Homo sapiens: one gene and its partner. The protein of the gene in region 1 purifies or fractionates together with the protein of each later gene. This does not show direct contact. Each region holds a gene or a part of one and is shown in the gene's direction. Other genes may lie near its edges.

What was found. Proteins that work in one complex are often made in the same cells at the same time.
Region 2: the proteins of CGAS (region 1) and IFI16 purify together in Homo sapiens (affinity purification with western blotting; 2 studies listed by BioGRID, with this or other methods). This does not show direct contact.

What each region holds. Positions count from the first base shown.
Region 1 is NC_000006.12:73,427,827-73,436,059, reverse strand, and holds part of CGAS (cyclic GMP-AMP synthase), read left to right. Parts: intron 1-7,248; coding exon 7,249-7,351; intron 7,352-8,233. UniProt on the Homo sapiens protein: Nucleotidyltransferase that catalyzes the formation of cyclic GMP-AMP (2',3'-cGAMP) from ATP and GTP and plays a key role in innate immunity.
Region 2 is NC_000001.11:159,005,508-159,013,522, forward strand, and holds the start of IFI16 (gamma-interferon-inducible protein 16), read left to right. Parts: upstream 1-4,399; 5' UTR 4,400-4,654; intron 4,655-6,999; exon of another isoform or gene 7,000-7,973; intron 7,974-8,015.

The sequences.
Region 1 (8,233 bases):
GCTGAGATTACAGGTGCACGACACTGTAATCAGTGGACATGTTTTCAAGTGGGTTTAAAACTTGGTATTTTGACTGTCCTTTTATCTTAAGGACAAAAAACTGCAAAAAAATTATAAGCTGTTTTTTATAAGTGTATTATTGGTAATAATACTGGTATTACTTTGAAAAAGGTAGATTGAACATAAATATTAGATAATATAGTAATTTATATACATACAAAATATATTTGTATGCTACCCCCTTTTTAAATAAAAGGTACACTTTTTTTTTTTTTTTTTTTAAAGTAGACACAGGGTCTTGCTATGTTGCCCAGGCTGGTCTCAAACTCCTGGCCTAAAGCAGTCCTCCCACTTTGGCCTCCTAAAGTGCTGGGATTATAGGCATGAGCCATCATGGCCAGGACATATGTTTTTCTTTTTAATTTTATTAATTTGGTTTATTTTTTAATTTTATAGACGCCCTGCTCTCAGATATAACACTTTTTTTCTTTTAATTTAACAAGATATTTTCGATCTCACTCCATACCTCTATATAGAGAAAACACCCATTCCTTTTTAAAGTCTATTTTTACAGCTGGTCAAAGAGTAAATCGTTATGTAATATTGCTAGGCATTTCCCAGATCTCCATAGGCATCATTCCAATTTGCTTTTCCACAGCAATGTATCAGAGTACCTGTTTCACTCTCAACCTCACTGACTTGTTAAACTTTTTGCCAATTGAAATTCTTGCCAGTGAGAAAATGATATCTCAAAAAGTAAGAAATGATATCTCAGTGTAGTTTATTTAAAAATAAACTTTTTGTTTTAGCATAGTTTTGTATTTACAGAAAAATTGTGAAGATAGTACAGAGAGTTCCCGTATAACCCCATACCCATTCCCCTGGGGTTTTTTCTGGGGGAGGTAGTGGGGCAGAGTTTCACTATGTTGCCCATGCTGGTCTTGAACTGAGCTCAATGATCCTCCCACCTCACCTTATCAAGTAACTGGGACTACAGACACGTGCCACTGCAGCACCCCCATTTTCCTATTATTAATATCTCACATTAATACAATACATTTAATAATTAATAAACCAATATTGATATATTATTGTTAGCTAAGGGCTATATCTGCTGGGCACAGTGGGTCTTGCCTGTAATCCCAGCACTTTGGGAGGCCGAGGTGGGCAGATCACCTGAAATCAAGAGTTCGAAACCACCCTGGCCAACATGGCAAAACCCCGTCTCTACTAAAAAAATACAAAAATTAGCCAGGCGTGGTGGCATGTGACTTAGTCCCAGCTACTCAGGAGGCCGAGACAGGAGAATCACTTGAACTTGGTGGGTGGAGTTGCAGTGAGCCAAGATCATGCCACTGCACTCCAGTCTAGGAGACACAGCGAGACTCCATTAAAAAAAAAAATTATATACTTTATCCAGATTTCCTTAGTTTTTCTTAATGTCCTTTTACTGTTCCAAGATCCCATTTAGGATACCATATTGCATTTAGTTGTCATGTCTCCTTAAGCTACTCTTGACTGTGACAGTTTTTTGGTTTTAACAGTTTTGAGGAGTACTAGTTAGGTATTTTGTAGAATGTCCTTTACTTGAGATTTCTTTATTATGTTTCTTATGATTAGATCAGAGTTATTGGTTTGGGGGAGGAAGGTCACAGAGGCAAAGTGCCATCCTTATCAAATTTTATCAACGGTACGTGCCACCTTTCTTTACAGTCATGTACAGTTGACCCTCAGGATTGGCTCCAGGGTACCCTGCAGACACCGAAGTCCACAGATGCTCAAATCCCTTACATAAAATGATATAATACAGTTGGCCCTCCATATCTGTGGGTTTCAATTCACGATTGGTTGAATTCTCAGATGTGAAACCCTCAGATACAGAGGGCCAACCGTATTGTGTAGCTATCCCTGAACTCTTTATTCTGTCCCATTAAAATCTTTGTCTATCTTTGTACCATGTTGTTGTACATAATGTAGCTTTATAATTAGTCTCAATATCTTTTAGGGCAAGTTCTACCACTTCGTTTTTCTCCAAGGGTGTCTGAGAGAGTCTTGACCCTTTACATTCTCATATAAATTTTGAAATCAGCTTTTCAGATTCCACAAAATACTTTTTGGAATTTTGATTGAGATAATGTTGAATCTATAGATAAATTTGGGGCCAGGAATGATGACTTATGCCTGTAATTCCAGCACTTCAGAAGGCTGAGGAAGGAGAGTTGCTTTAGGTGAGGGGTTCAAGACCATCTTGGACAACACTGTGTAAAAACTCTAGCCAGGCGTGGTGGCTCACGCCTGTAATCCCAGCACTTTGGAAGGCCAAGGTGAGTGGATTACGAGGTCAAGAGATCGAGACCATCCTGGCCAACATGGTAAGACCCCATTTCTACTAAAAATACAAAAATTAGCTGGGCATGGTGGCACGTGCCTGTAGTCCTAGCTACTCGGGAGGCTGAGGCAGGAGAATCGCTTGAACCCAGGAGGCAGAGGTTGCAGTGAGCCAAGATCACGCCATTGCACTCCAGCCTGGTGACAGAGAGAGACTCCGTCTCAAAAAAAAATTAAAAAAAAAAAACTCTCTATAAAAGTTTTTATAGAGAGTTGTGAGTCTTCATCTCTATAAAAACTTTTTAAAAATTAGCCAGGCGTGGTGGTGTGCACTTGTAGCTTGTAGTCTTAGTTACGCAAGAGAATCACTTAAGCTCAGGAGTTCGAGGTTACAGTGAGCTATGATCTTGCCACTGCACTCCAGCCTGGGCAACATAACAAGACACTGTCTGTATTAAAAAAAAAAAACATGGGAGAGAGTTGATATGTTAACAATATTGAGTCTCCCAATCCACTTATTTACATCTCCTCTAATACTTCCCAGCTTCATTCATTAGCATTTTCTCTGCAGAGGTTTTGTATATCTTTTGTTAATTTATTCATAGGTAATTGATCTATTTTAAAACTATTTATTTATTTATTTATTTTGAGATGGAGTCTCGCTCTGTCACCCAGGCTGGAGTGCAGTGGTGCGATCTCGGCTCACTGCACCCTCCACCTCCTGGGTTCAAGCGATTCTCCTGCCTCAGCCTCCTGAGTAGCTGGGATTACAGGTGCCCACCACCGTGTCTGGCTAGTTTTTGTATTTTTAGTAGAGATAGGGTTTCACCATGTTGTCCAGGCTGCTCTCAAACTCCTGACCTCAGGTGATCTGCTCACCTCGGCCTCCCAAAGTACTGGGATGACAGGCGTGAGCCACCGCGCCTGGCCAAAACTTTTTATTATGAAAATTTTAAACCAGTACCAAAGGAGACTGGGCCAGGAGTGTTGGCTCATGCTTGTAATACCAGCATTTTGGGAGGCTGAGGTGGGTGGATCACTTGAGCCCAGGAGTTCAAGCCTGGGCCACGTGACAAAACCCTGTCTCTTCAAAAAATACAAAATAAATTAGCTGGGTGTGGTAATATGCACCTGTTGTCCCAGCTATTTGGGGGGCTGAGGTGGGAGAATCACTTGAGTCTAGGAGGTTGAGGCTTCTGTGAGCCGAGATCATGTCACTGCGCTCCAGCCTGGGTGACAAAGTGAAACCTTGTCTTAAAAAAATAATCAATGACTGGGAGCGGTGGCTCACACCTGTAATCCAAGCACTTTGGGAGGCCAAGGCGGGTGGGTCACCTGAGGTCAGGAGTGCGAGACCAGCCTGGCCAACATGGTGAAACCCCATCTCTACTAAAAATACAAAATTAGCCGGGCATGGTGGCGCATGCCTGTAATCCCAGCTACTCAGGAGGCTGAGGCAGGAGAATCACTTGAACCTGGAAGGCAGAGGTTGCAGTGAGCTGAGATGGTGTCACTGCACTCCAGCCTGGGCAACAGAGCGAGACTCAATCTCAAAAAATAAAAATAAATAAAAATAAATGTATAAACAAATAATAATTTTCTTATATTAGCTGGGCACAGTGGCTCACAGCTGTAATTCCAGCACTTTGGGAGGTGGGAGGATTGCTGGACCCCAGGAGTTTGAGATCAGCCTGGGCAAGGTGGAGAGACCCCGTCTCTACAAAAAAATCCAAAAATTAGCCAGCCATGGTGATGTATGCTTCTGGTCCCGCTATTGGAACGGCTAACATGAGAAGATTGCTTGAGGCTGGGAAGTCGAGGTTTCAGTGAGCTGTGTTCACGCACTCCAGCCTGGGTGATAGAGGGAGATCTTGTCTCAAAAAATGAAAGAAAAAAGTAATAATTCCCTAATATCAAACACCTATTCAGTATTAAAATTTCCGCTTGTCTTGTAAGTGTCATACTTTTTTTGTATGTTTGGATCAGTCTGTTTGGATCAGGATTCAAATAAGGTTCATACATTGTGACTGACCAATATGTCTGTTAAATCTCTTTTAACTCATAACTTCCTCTTTCATAACTTTTTTATTCCTTGAATAAAATTTACTCAATTTACTTCAATTTACTCATTGAAGAAACAGGTTATTTTTCCTGTAGAGTTTCCCAAAGAGAGTTTGTAGAGTGCATTCTAGAAGTGTCGTTTAGCATGTTCTGCTTTCATCCATATTTCTTTTTGTTGTTGTTGTTGTTTTGTTTTTTTGAGAGGGAGTTTTGCTCTTGTTGCCCAGTCTGGAGTGCAATCGCCCGATCTTGGCTCACTGCAACCTGCGCCTCCCAGGTTTAAGTGATTCTCCTGCCTTAGCCTCCAGAGTAGCTGGGATTACAGGCTTGTGCCACCATGCCCGGCTAAATGTTTGTATTTTTAGTAGAAATGGGGTTTCACCATGTTGGTCCGGCTGGTCTCGAACTCCTGACCTCAGGTGATCCACCGCCTCAGCCTCCCAAAGTGCTGGGATTACAGGAGTGAGCCACTGTGCCTGGCCTCATCCATATTTCATTAGCAGTTAGATCTAGAAGGTAACTGTTGGGTGTTTTTTTTTGTTTGTTTTTTGTTTTTGTTTTTGTTTTTTGAGACTGAGTCTCACTCTGTCATCCAGGCTGGAGTGCAATGGCATGATCTTGGCTCACTGCAACCTCTGCCTCCTGAATTCAAGCGATTCCCCTGCCTCAGCCTCCTGAGTAGCTGGGATTACAACTGTGTGCCACAATGCCTGGCTAATTTTTGTATTTTTAGTAGCGACGGAGTTTCGCCATGTTTGCCAGGCTGCTCTTGAACCCCATATCTCAGGTGATCTGCTCACCTCGGCCTCCCACGGTGCTGGGATTACAGGCATGAGCCACTGCACCTGGCCTAATTGCTAGTTTTTATACTATTGTAAGTAACATCTTTCTCAAAATTTCATTTTTTGTTTATTACCATATATCAAAATACCTTTGATTTTTGTATCCACAATCTTGGTAACTCTTTTAATTGATTTGGTGAGTTTATTTACATAATTTTTTTTTTCTTTTTTCATTTTCTTTCTTTTTTGAGATGGAGCCTCGCTCTGTTGTCCAGGCTGGAGTGCAGTGGCGTGATCTCGACTCACTGCAACCTCGGCATTCCGGGTTCAAGGGATTCTCCTGCCTCAGCCTCCCAAGTAGCTGGGACTATATACAAATACATACATACATGTGGTATGTGTAGGCACACGCCACCACACTGGCTAAGCTAATCTTTCTATTTTTAGTAGATATGGTGTTTCACCATGTTGGCCAGGCTGGTCTCCTGTCTCGGCCTCCTGAAGTGCTGGGATTACAGGCGTGAACCACCATGCCCAGCATTGTAGATTCTTTTGTATTTCCTATATATGCAATTACATCACCTATGAATAATGATGGCTTTGTTTCTCCCTTTCCAGTGTGTAACCCTGTTTTTCCTTCCCTTACTGTGCTTGCTATGACACCCAGTGCATGTTGAACAGAAATAGAGATAGCAGATGTTTTGCCTTCTTTCTGATTTCTCTCTCCAACTTTTTACCTCACATAATGATTGTTGCTATAGTTTTCTAAAATCTACCTTTTATGGAATCAAGTGTCCATCTAGACTTAGATTGCTAAGAGGTGTTTTTTTAATGATGAACGACTATAGGATTTTAAGAGCTTCATTTTCTTCATCTATTGAGACAATCATGTATTTCTCCTCTATTCTGTTAATGTGACAGATTATATTGATTGATTTTTCTGAAAAATCATTCAGATTATAAACTACTTATACTTTGCTAGTATAAAACCACGAAGTAACAGGGTGGTCAGAGCATAAAAGAGCTAGCCATGGTAAGACTCGGGGAGAAATTTTTTTTTTTTGAGACAGAGTCTTGTGCTGTTGCCCAGGCTGGAGTGCAGTGGCGCGATCTCCGCTCACTGCAAGCTCCACCTCCCGGGTTCGCGCCATTCTCCTGCCTCAGCCTCCCAAGTAGCTGGGATTACAGGCGCCCGCCACCACGCCCGGCTAATTTTTTGTATTTTTGGTAGAGGCAGGGTTTCACTGTGTTAGCCAGGATGGTCTTGATCTCCCGACCTTGTGATCCGCCCACCTTGGCCTCCCAAGGTGCTGGGATTACAGGCGTGAGCCACCGCGCCCAGGTGAAATCATTCTATATTTACACAAACTCTCATAAATAAGAATAAAGGAAATGGTCCCCAATTCATTTTGTATTAATATAAAACCTGTAAGGATGGTACAGAAAAAGTGAATAAATTGATTCAAATTATTATTGAAACAAAATATTTAACAAAGGGAATTTAGCAATATATAAAAGGTAATACATCTTACTATTGCTAACTATATTAAACTGTGACTTCCTTTTTTTTTCGGTTAGGCCCATTTTTTGTCTCAGTGTACTTATTTTTATACATAATTATTTATCTGTTCACTTCTTTTGATTCACTCCTAAGATTTTTTCAGAATATTTTCTTTTTCTTTCTTTCTTTTTTTTTTTTTGATGGAGTTTTGCTCTTGTTGCCCAGGCTGGAGTGCAATGGTGCAATCTCGGCTCACTGCAACCTCCACCTCCCAGGTTCAAGTGATTCTCCTTCCTCAGCCTCCCGAGTAGCTGGGATTACAGGCATGTGCCACCATGCCAGGATAACTTTTTTTTGTATTTTTGGTAGAGATGGGTTTCTCCATGTTGGTCAGGCTGGTCTCGAACTCCCGACCTCAGGTGACCCACCCTCCTCGGCCTCCCAAAGTACTGAGATTACAGGCGTGAGCCCCCATGCCCAGCCCCAGGATATTTTCATGAGGGAAACCACTTGAATATTGTTTAGATATGGATGCTTTGGGTAAAGTGCTTTTTTGTTTTTCTTTTTGAAATTAAGAAGAAACATGGCGGCTATCCTTCTCTCACATCGAAAAGGAAATTTTGAACAATCATGGAAAATCTAAAACGTGCTGTGAAAACAAAGAAGAGAAATGTTGCAGGTAACAGCCTTATTTTGTTAAATGACAGATTATCTATGGTATGCTTAATTATTTGTTGACTCCACACCTCAGACCTGAAGAGCTGAGCTGGGTTGGGTCTGGGGGGCAGGGCAGGATTGGGTTGAGCTGGGGAGAGTGTGAGTATGAAACCAGAGAAGCTAGATCCAAAGGGCCAAGGAAAGGGTGTTGTTAGAAGGCAAGGCCGGGGAATAGTAGTTCTGAACCCTGGATCAGATGAATGTGTTTTTGTATAGATGTATCAGTAGGACAGAGTGAGAGGGTATGAGCACTAGCCATGACAATTCGATGGGTCTTAGTATTCTGCTTGTTTAAAAGTAATGGATATTAATGCCATATAATTGGAGGAGGCCAAAAGGTCGCTCTTATTAGATACTGGGCTTGCTTTGGGATAGTTGGGTTGTGTTGACGGCTAGGGATTGATTGGCCAAACTGAAAACAACACTAAGTGAGTAATTTTTTTTTTTGAGACAGACTTTCACTCTGTCACCCAGACTGGAGTGCAGTGGCACAATTACGGCTCACCACAGCCTCGATCTCCTGGGCTCAAGCAATCATCCTACCTCAGCCCCCCAAGTAGCTGAGATTACAGGTGCATGCCACCATGCTCGGCTAATTTAAAAAAAAATTTTGTAGAGGGCCTGTTGGCTCACACCTGTAATCCCAGCCTAGCAACATGGTGAGACCCCACCTCCATAAAAAATTTAAAAATTAGCCAGGCATGGTGACTGGTGCCTGTGGTCCCAGCTACTTGGAAGGCTGAGGTAGGAGAATGGCTCGAGCCCAGAAAATCAAGGCTGCAGTGAGCCATGATCGTGCCACTGCACTGCAACCTGGGTGACATAGTGACACCCTGTCTCAAAA
Region 2 (8,015 bases), on another chromosome or scaffold:
TAAAGAGGTCATCCCTAGAACTACAGAAGCTCTTTCTGCCAACAGAGTTGTCTGGAGTTTATGGCATTAGCTTTGAGCAACAGGAAAAGTAGAATACAAAACTGCAATACAGAAACTACAAAATTTCAAGGAAGGACTGGCTGAGAGAAGCCTTGAGGTTGGAGGGGAAGGAATGGCATTGTTGTGAAAACGTGTTCTGGGAACTGAGCTTAAATTGAATTGTAGGAGGCTGCAGTCCCACTGGAAAATGCATACTGGCACCAAGATGACTGCTGCTTCCAGGAACATCCTCCCACTCCTTAGCAATGTGGAACAGATTGAAGGAAGCTCAAACAATCCATTTAAGCAGGAAGTAAATAGATTAAGAGAGCAACCAGATGGCCTAAGGCACTATCGGTATAGCTATCCCCACCCCTCAGCGCCCCCATCAGCTTTTCCTTCCTTGTTTCTTCTCACTGTCTGAAAGACTACTCAGGCGTGCACTGCGAGGTGGAGATCTGACTTCTCTTGTTCCCGCTTAAGACTGCCTCCTGTGTAAGTTTCTGCTATCTAGATCTTTGACTACCAACCAGCCAGGAGTGGTCTGCCTCTTCTTTGGTCTGAGCTTGCCTTGTGCTTATATTGTTGTACCCAAGCGAGTTAAGAAAATACCCCACACTTTGAGACGAATTAAGAGTCCTTTAGTAAGCCAGTGGCCAAAGAGACGGCTAATGCTCAAAATTCTCTCGGCCCCGAGGAAGGGGCTTGATTAACTTTTATACCTAGGTTTAGGAAGGGGAGGGGGACTCAAATGCAATAATTCTACAGAAGCAAAAACATGCCTTAAAAGACAAATGGTTACAAGAAGAGCAACGGTACCAGGTGCAAGGTTGTAAATCTTTCATTGTAATTAGATATAGGGTCTATGCCGGACACGAACTCAAGGTTTTATGTTGTTATCTTTTTGAGAAAAAGCCTGGGAACTTCATACATTGTTGGTGTTACTACCTTATCAGTTAATTGGGCTCTTTTGAAACGCTGAGGATCTGTTTACCCAGGCCAACTCCTTACTAAAGGGGGTTGGGTAAGGAGCCCTTAGTGTCTTGTAAATTAAGGGGTCAATTGGAGTTTGTCCGACCTTCCCAGCTAGAGAGAGTCTTATTTACATGAGAAGCAAGGCTGGGTGATTAAAGAGACAAGCAGGACAAAATTCAAAGTAACGAGTTAGAGTAAAAACAAGGTTAGGCATTTCAATATAGGGTGGTTCTTAGTCCAGCAGGGCGTTTTCCCGATAACCACCTGTTTAACTACATTCACCCTTGGTGCAAGTGCCAAAAAACAAACAAACAAACAAAAAGACCAAGGCGATAGGTATTTGCACCATAAACTTCTCCCATCTTTTATGTCCGTAATTTTGTGTTATTTCGCATTTCTGACTGTTTATAGAATTGAATTGGCCTTTACCTTATCATATAATAATATACTTTAATTTTAATCACAAATACATATGTTAAGTAGAACACAATCTAGGAAATACAAGATAATACAGAGAAAAATGGAAGTATTGGGGAAAAGGAAACAGCACAAAACCAAGTGTGACGAAAAAGATAAACTTTGACTTCTAATTTCAACTGAGAATCAATGGACAAAACATCAAAGCCATTATCTGAAATGCATGGTTCCATTCATGTGAGAGTTGGAGAGACAAATGTTAGTATTCCAAAAAAGAAAATAATTCGGTTTAGGCTTTGGGAAAATCAGATTCTGTGTCTTAACAGCAAAGGTCCAGCCCCAGCAGGAAGCATGAGAACCCAAACAATGCCCTTGTGCTAATATTGTTAAGTGGAGAATCTGTAAAGAAATAATGAAGAAAATGACATTCACACAAGCTTAAAAGGACATGGATGTTTTGCTAAAGAAAAAAATATGTGTAGAAATTAGTAAATCAAGGAAGTAATTTTGCTTAGCATTCAAGTGCATGGGCTTTGGAATAAGGTAGATCTGGTTTGAATTTGGCTCCAACACTAACTAGGCGCCTAGTTTTTAGAAAATAGCTTCAATTACTGCTACACACTGGATTATGTTATCTAAATTCATATGATGAAGCCATAACCTCCCAGTGTGATGATATTTGAAAACGAGGCCTTTGGTGGGTAGTTTATGAGGGTGGGGTCCTCATAATGTGATTAGCACCCTTATAAGAAGAGGTATCAGAGAGTGCTCTCTCTCTCTCTCAACACTAGGTGAGGACCCTGCATAAATATGGCTATGTGCAAGCCAGGAAGAGGGCTCATACCAGAAACTAAGTTGGCCATCCTTGATCTTGGAACCCTCAGCATCCAGAAGACCCAAATCAACTAAGATAGTAGTCTTCTCTAAAAAGGGGAAACTTTGCTGCATAGAGTTGATTTGCAAAACAAGTGAACAATGCATATGCCACAGTCTATTGCATCATGAAAAACCAGTGTGCAATAGGTCTTTTTGTTCTTAGCAAGGTAAAGACATTTGCAATACTGACAGGAGAAATGTCACCTACAAATACTCTAAAGTGTGAAGTGACATAAATGTTTCTGCACAGCTAAAACTTTGGTATATGTGGAACAGTATGGAAAATGAGGCCAGAAAGGTAAAATAGTAAGCTGCTTTTTGTCATAAAGAGAGAAATGGAACACTCATTGTTCAAAAATAGGTACATAATTGAGAGATTTTATTCAGAATAATGCCTGATTAATATAAATTTAGTCACTGTAATAATGTAGCTACATAATTTATATATATGTATATATATTCGCACATTTTTTGCTTTATCAGGAATTTTTGTATATTCTACTAATGACTTTTCTGTATGATAGCACAAATTGCAATTGTTGGCCACTGCCACAAAGTGGGGGAAAATGCACATTTTTAAGCATTTCTTTGCTTCATCTATGAAAATTTCATCTTTGTGGTATGAATTATGGAGCATTGTCCTGAGTTGCCCTTATAGGTGACCGCAGTTTGTGTGTTGTATGCTGGAGTCCCAATTGAGGACATTACTGCATATAAAATGATTATAAGTAAAAGGCAGAAAATGTTCTGAAGGGTCATAACTTCCAAGGGTTCTCTACCCTTTGACCTCTGGATTGGGGTTCCCAGTGACTGCCTTAATATCCTTCTCTACCTACTGCCTTAAGGCCAACTCAATGTATCCACGTAAAGAGTACCCTAAAGCCAGTAAAAGATTATCACGAACACCCAGAGATGTTTATGGCCATCATTCCAGATCCTCTTTGCTTTTTCTTGACTTACTCCTTTTTTGATAAAGTTATTCATATGGTTTCAAATCCAGAATTCAGCTATTCACTTCATGGCCCTAGTTTGGATTAAAACAATCAGCTTTCTTTTGCTCTGTAGATGGCCTTGGACAGTACATATTAACAGTCTATGGGGCCCCTTTTCCACTCATGACCACATCCTGCTTGCAGATCTGCTGCTGGGTTAACACCACATCATCTGCTAGTTGATGCCATTTATTTGACATCCTGGGGTTACAGCACGCTAAAGGGCACCCACTGTCCTTAACAGAGAAAAATACACTGCTGAGCAGAGGATTAAACAGACTCCTCACACTACCGGAAGTTCAGTGCATTTTCCAGGATTTTCAAGTCTTCGATGCTGTCATGTTGAGAGTCCACTATCCACGTTTGTTTATCCAGGAATAATGCAGAAAATCTGAGCATTCGTGAATCTAATCATTGAGGTAAAGTAACCTAGTCATGGTCAAGAGGACAGCTAGTGTTAAACTCCTTCATATAAATTTAAGGAAGGATTTACATATTCATAATGACTTTCTGATCTGGAAAGCCCAGGCTTGTCAGTTATTAATAATTGGATGAATACTTCAGGTAGTATTTAAACAAATAGCGATTTCATAGCAGACATTTCCCCAACCAGGAGATGCAGTAAAGTATTGGTAGCAATAGATGCTCCTACCAAGATCTCCTCCTGCCACTGCCACTCTGTGCACAGGAAAGGAGGGGAGAAGAAGCCATGTTGCTTCTCTTATATTTGAGCATCATTTAAGGGAATATAAGTCTCTAATGACTCACATGTAAGTCTGCTGGGTAAGAAAGTTCTAATGTTGGAACTCCTTTCAGCTATCGAATTTTGTAAGAAAAAAAACTTATTTGTGTTTATATACATTTATGAGATACAAGTGTAATTTCGTTACATGGATATATGCCATATTGGTGAAGTCAGAGATTTCAGTGTGCACATCACCCGAAAAATGTTAACTGTACCCATTAAAGTAATTTCTCATCCCCCATTTCCCCTCACCACATGCTCCAGCCCTTGCCAGGAAACTGTTCATTTTCTCTGACTAACAGAAACGAAAGCTAAAAACACTGGTGGGAGGAGTCTCCACATTGTTTCCTACTCCATTTTCTCTGGGGCAATAGCAGAATAGGAGCAAGCCAGCACTAGTCAGCTAACTAAGTGACTCAACCAAGGCCTTTTTTCCTTGTTATCTTTGCAGATACTTCATTTTCTTAGCGTTTCTGGAGATTACAACATCCTGCGGTTCCGTTTCTGGGAACTTTACTGATTTATCTCCCCCCTCACACAAATAAGCATTGATTCCTGCATTTCTGAAGATCTCAAGATCTGGACTACTGTTGAAAAAATTTCCAGTGAGGTGAGTACTGTTCCTGATTTTGTAAATATGATCTTGTTCCTTCCTTGAAGTCCCCAGAATCACAAGGGGACAATCAGTATTGGTTATTCAGGGTCATGGGATGATGGGAGTAGGGCTGAGTATTCAGAAAAGTGAAAACTGAGTTGCTTGATATGAATCCTTCATTTACTTAGGAAGATAACAGGCATCTTCTATTCCACCACAACTGAGGACTGAACAAGAGAAAATGCATTTTGACCGTTGCAGATTTTAAAATTAATTATCCGAGTGTATACTGGCATAAGTTGGTACTTAGAAGAGGGCTTCTGTTATTTTGGCTGGAAGAAGTGTTGGAAACTCGGTAGCTGTGGTGGGTTCTCAAGATAGTGACATGAAAAAAGTATCATGAAAGAATATTAAGTAAAAAACATATCTGAGCATAGAGATGTATTATATGACATCATCCCAATTTTACAAAACATAAGAACAAATGTACACAGAGTAGAAAATTTTTTTCAGTTTCACAAACACAGTTACTCAAGCACATGGTGTCTTAATATTTTCATAAGTATATTGATCCTTTACTTTAGCTCCATTCTGCACCGGGTGCTAGCGGCAGAATTTCAATCATTTTGGAATTACTCTCTGCCCTCCTGAAAGTTAATGATTTTTTTTTTCCTTGTGGCAAGGTATAGGGGAGTGGAGGGGAAGGCAGTTAGGAAAAGGTTACTATTGTTTACTTTTCAAATTTTTAAAAGATGTTTTCTATAGCCTGGTACAATATTTCATGTGTGCTTAAATGGAATGTGAGATTCTTAAATGTTGTTTTCAGAATTTTATTAGATAAATGTTGTTAATTACGTTGTTCAAATTTATTATATCATTACAGATTTTTTCACCTTGTTCATTTAGTAATTGAAGCATAAACTGAAATCTCCTATTATAAAGTTTGCTTTTTTGGCCGGGCACAGAGGTTCATGCCTGTAATCCCAGTACTTTGGGGGAGACCAAGGCGAGCGGATCACTTGACGTCAGGAGTTCCAGACCAGCCTGGCCAGCATGGCGAAACCCTGTCTCTATTAAAAATACAATAATTAGCCGGGTATGGTCATGTGTGCCTGTAATCCCAGCTACTCAGGAGACTGAGGCAGGAGAATCGCTTGAACCAGGAGGCAGAGGTTGCAGTGAGCCGAGACTGTGCCACTACACTCCAGCCTGGGTGACAGAGCAAGGCTCTGTCTCAAAAAAAAAAAAAAATTTTTTTTCTTTGTAGTGCTCTCACAATCACATACATGTTATGTGTATATATAATATACATTCACACACAAATATATGTATATATAATCATGTATACAAACAGGTACACACATATATGTGTGTAGTGATGTCTGTACATGTGTGTATATGAAGAGAAATATATACTAATTATAGTACCATGAAGCACTATAAAATAATAAATAATATCATTAGATAAATTAGATAAATTCATAACTAAAACATAATTTTCTAGGAGTTGAAACTTTTATCATGTGGTATCTGAAGTTACTTTTGGGCTTAAGGTATATTTAAAATTACACAAACATAGATAAACTGGCTTTCTTTAGTTATTCCTTGCAAGATAATTTTTAACAATTTTTTTCACCTTTTGTTAACAATATATATGTAGATTTCTTAAATCAAATTTGATGAAAGTTGTCACTTAACAGGTCAGACCTTTTAGGTATATGCTGGTAATTAACAATCTGCTGTCTTTACTTCAATTTATGACACTTCTATATCATCTCACTATCTAAGACAATTGCTTTAGTGAATTGTCATGTTCTTTTTCTTCCCTCCCTTTACCATGCTGTTGTAATTTCTGTTTCTCTTATATTTGATCAGGGTTTTCTTTGTAAGACATTAGGAACACCTAAAAAAGTTTATTTTTCACTCTTCTTATCTTTTGGCTGGCAGAATTTTTAATTTTATTCATGTTTTCCTATTAAATATTATTTTCAATAGATGTTTTCTTGTGGTATGAGTCTTTGTCTTGCAAAAAGACTGAGGCCCTGAGTATCACAAAATAGTTTTTGAGACTCTTCTATTTAAATATCATTTTGCCTAAATTAAAACTCTAAAATGTAAAATTATATTTTCCCTTAAGACAAGATGAAAGCACCTCTTCTGTGCTGTGGAGCTAGATACATTTTGAAGTTAAGAATCTGGAGGCTTCAGAAAGGCTATTTAGTGTATATATTCTAAATAGTGTCTTACTAGAAACTCCATTGGGATATAAATAATTACTCCAAAATCAAAAGCACTAATATTGCAAAACAAAACATGTGAGTGTTCACATTTCAGTGAAATAAAGATTATACATAGCCTACTGTCATCCCAAATCTGGTTTTATTTTGCAAATAAATTGTGCTGTCACACTTGTTGGAAACAAGTGCTCAGTGCCACAAAGAAAAACCAGCACTTAAACAGGAAATTTCTCAGCAAAGCATATTTGCTTCTACAGAAGGGTGCTGCCTGCGTCAGTCACAATGCACATTCTAAGCTGACCGGATTGGCTACTGCTTTAAATTCTATAGGGGTAATTAGGCGGGAAGGAAGACACTGTCCTGTACCAATTAGGCGGGAAGGCATGTCTGGGGCGGCAAAGGAAGGAAGGGTTGTTTACAGAACAGGAAAGAACAGGAAAGTTTGAAGACGAACTTATTGTTTCTAGCACACTCACAAAATAAGTCAAAACTTTCCATTGAAAATTTTTTTTGGTTTTGCAATTGATATGGAACTTTGGACCAACATTATATAAAAATAACTCCATTGTCCTGCTTCAGGCAGTTTTGATATAGAGATTCACTTTCAATTTGATTCTTGAATCTTTGTAGGTGATCTATTCCTCATTACCGAAGGCTTACAGAGTATTTTTGTTCATTATATTCTTCAGTTTCACTATAATGTGTTTTTGTATAGATTTTCCCTTCATTCTCTGGACCTTTTCAGTCCAAGGATCCTCATGTTCTCGTAAGAAGGAAGCTTTTTTTTTTTTTTTTTTTTTTTTTTGACGGAGTCTCACTCTGTCACCCAGGCTGGAGTGTAGTGGCACGATCTCCGCTCACTGCAACCTCCGTCTCCTGGGTTCAAGCAATTCTCCTGCCTCAGCCTCCCGAGTAGCTGGGACTGCAAGCGCTTGCCACCACACCTGGCTAATTTTTGGTATTTTTAGTGGAAACGAGGTCTCACTGTGTTAGCCAGGATGCTTTTGATCTCCGGAACTTGTGATTCGACCACCTCGGCCTCCCAACATGCTGGAATTACAGGCGTGAGCCACTGCGCCTGGCCCAATTAATAGCCCCTGAAATTTAGATATCTTGGTTATACACAAAGACATCATTCC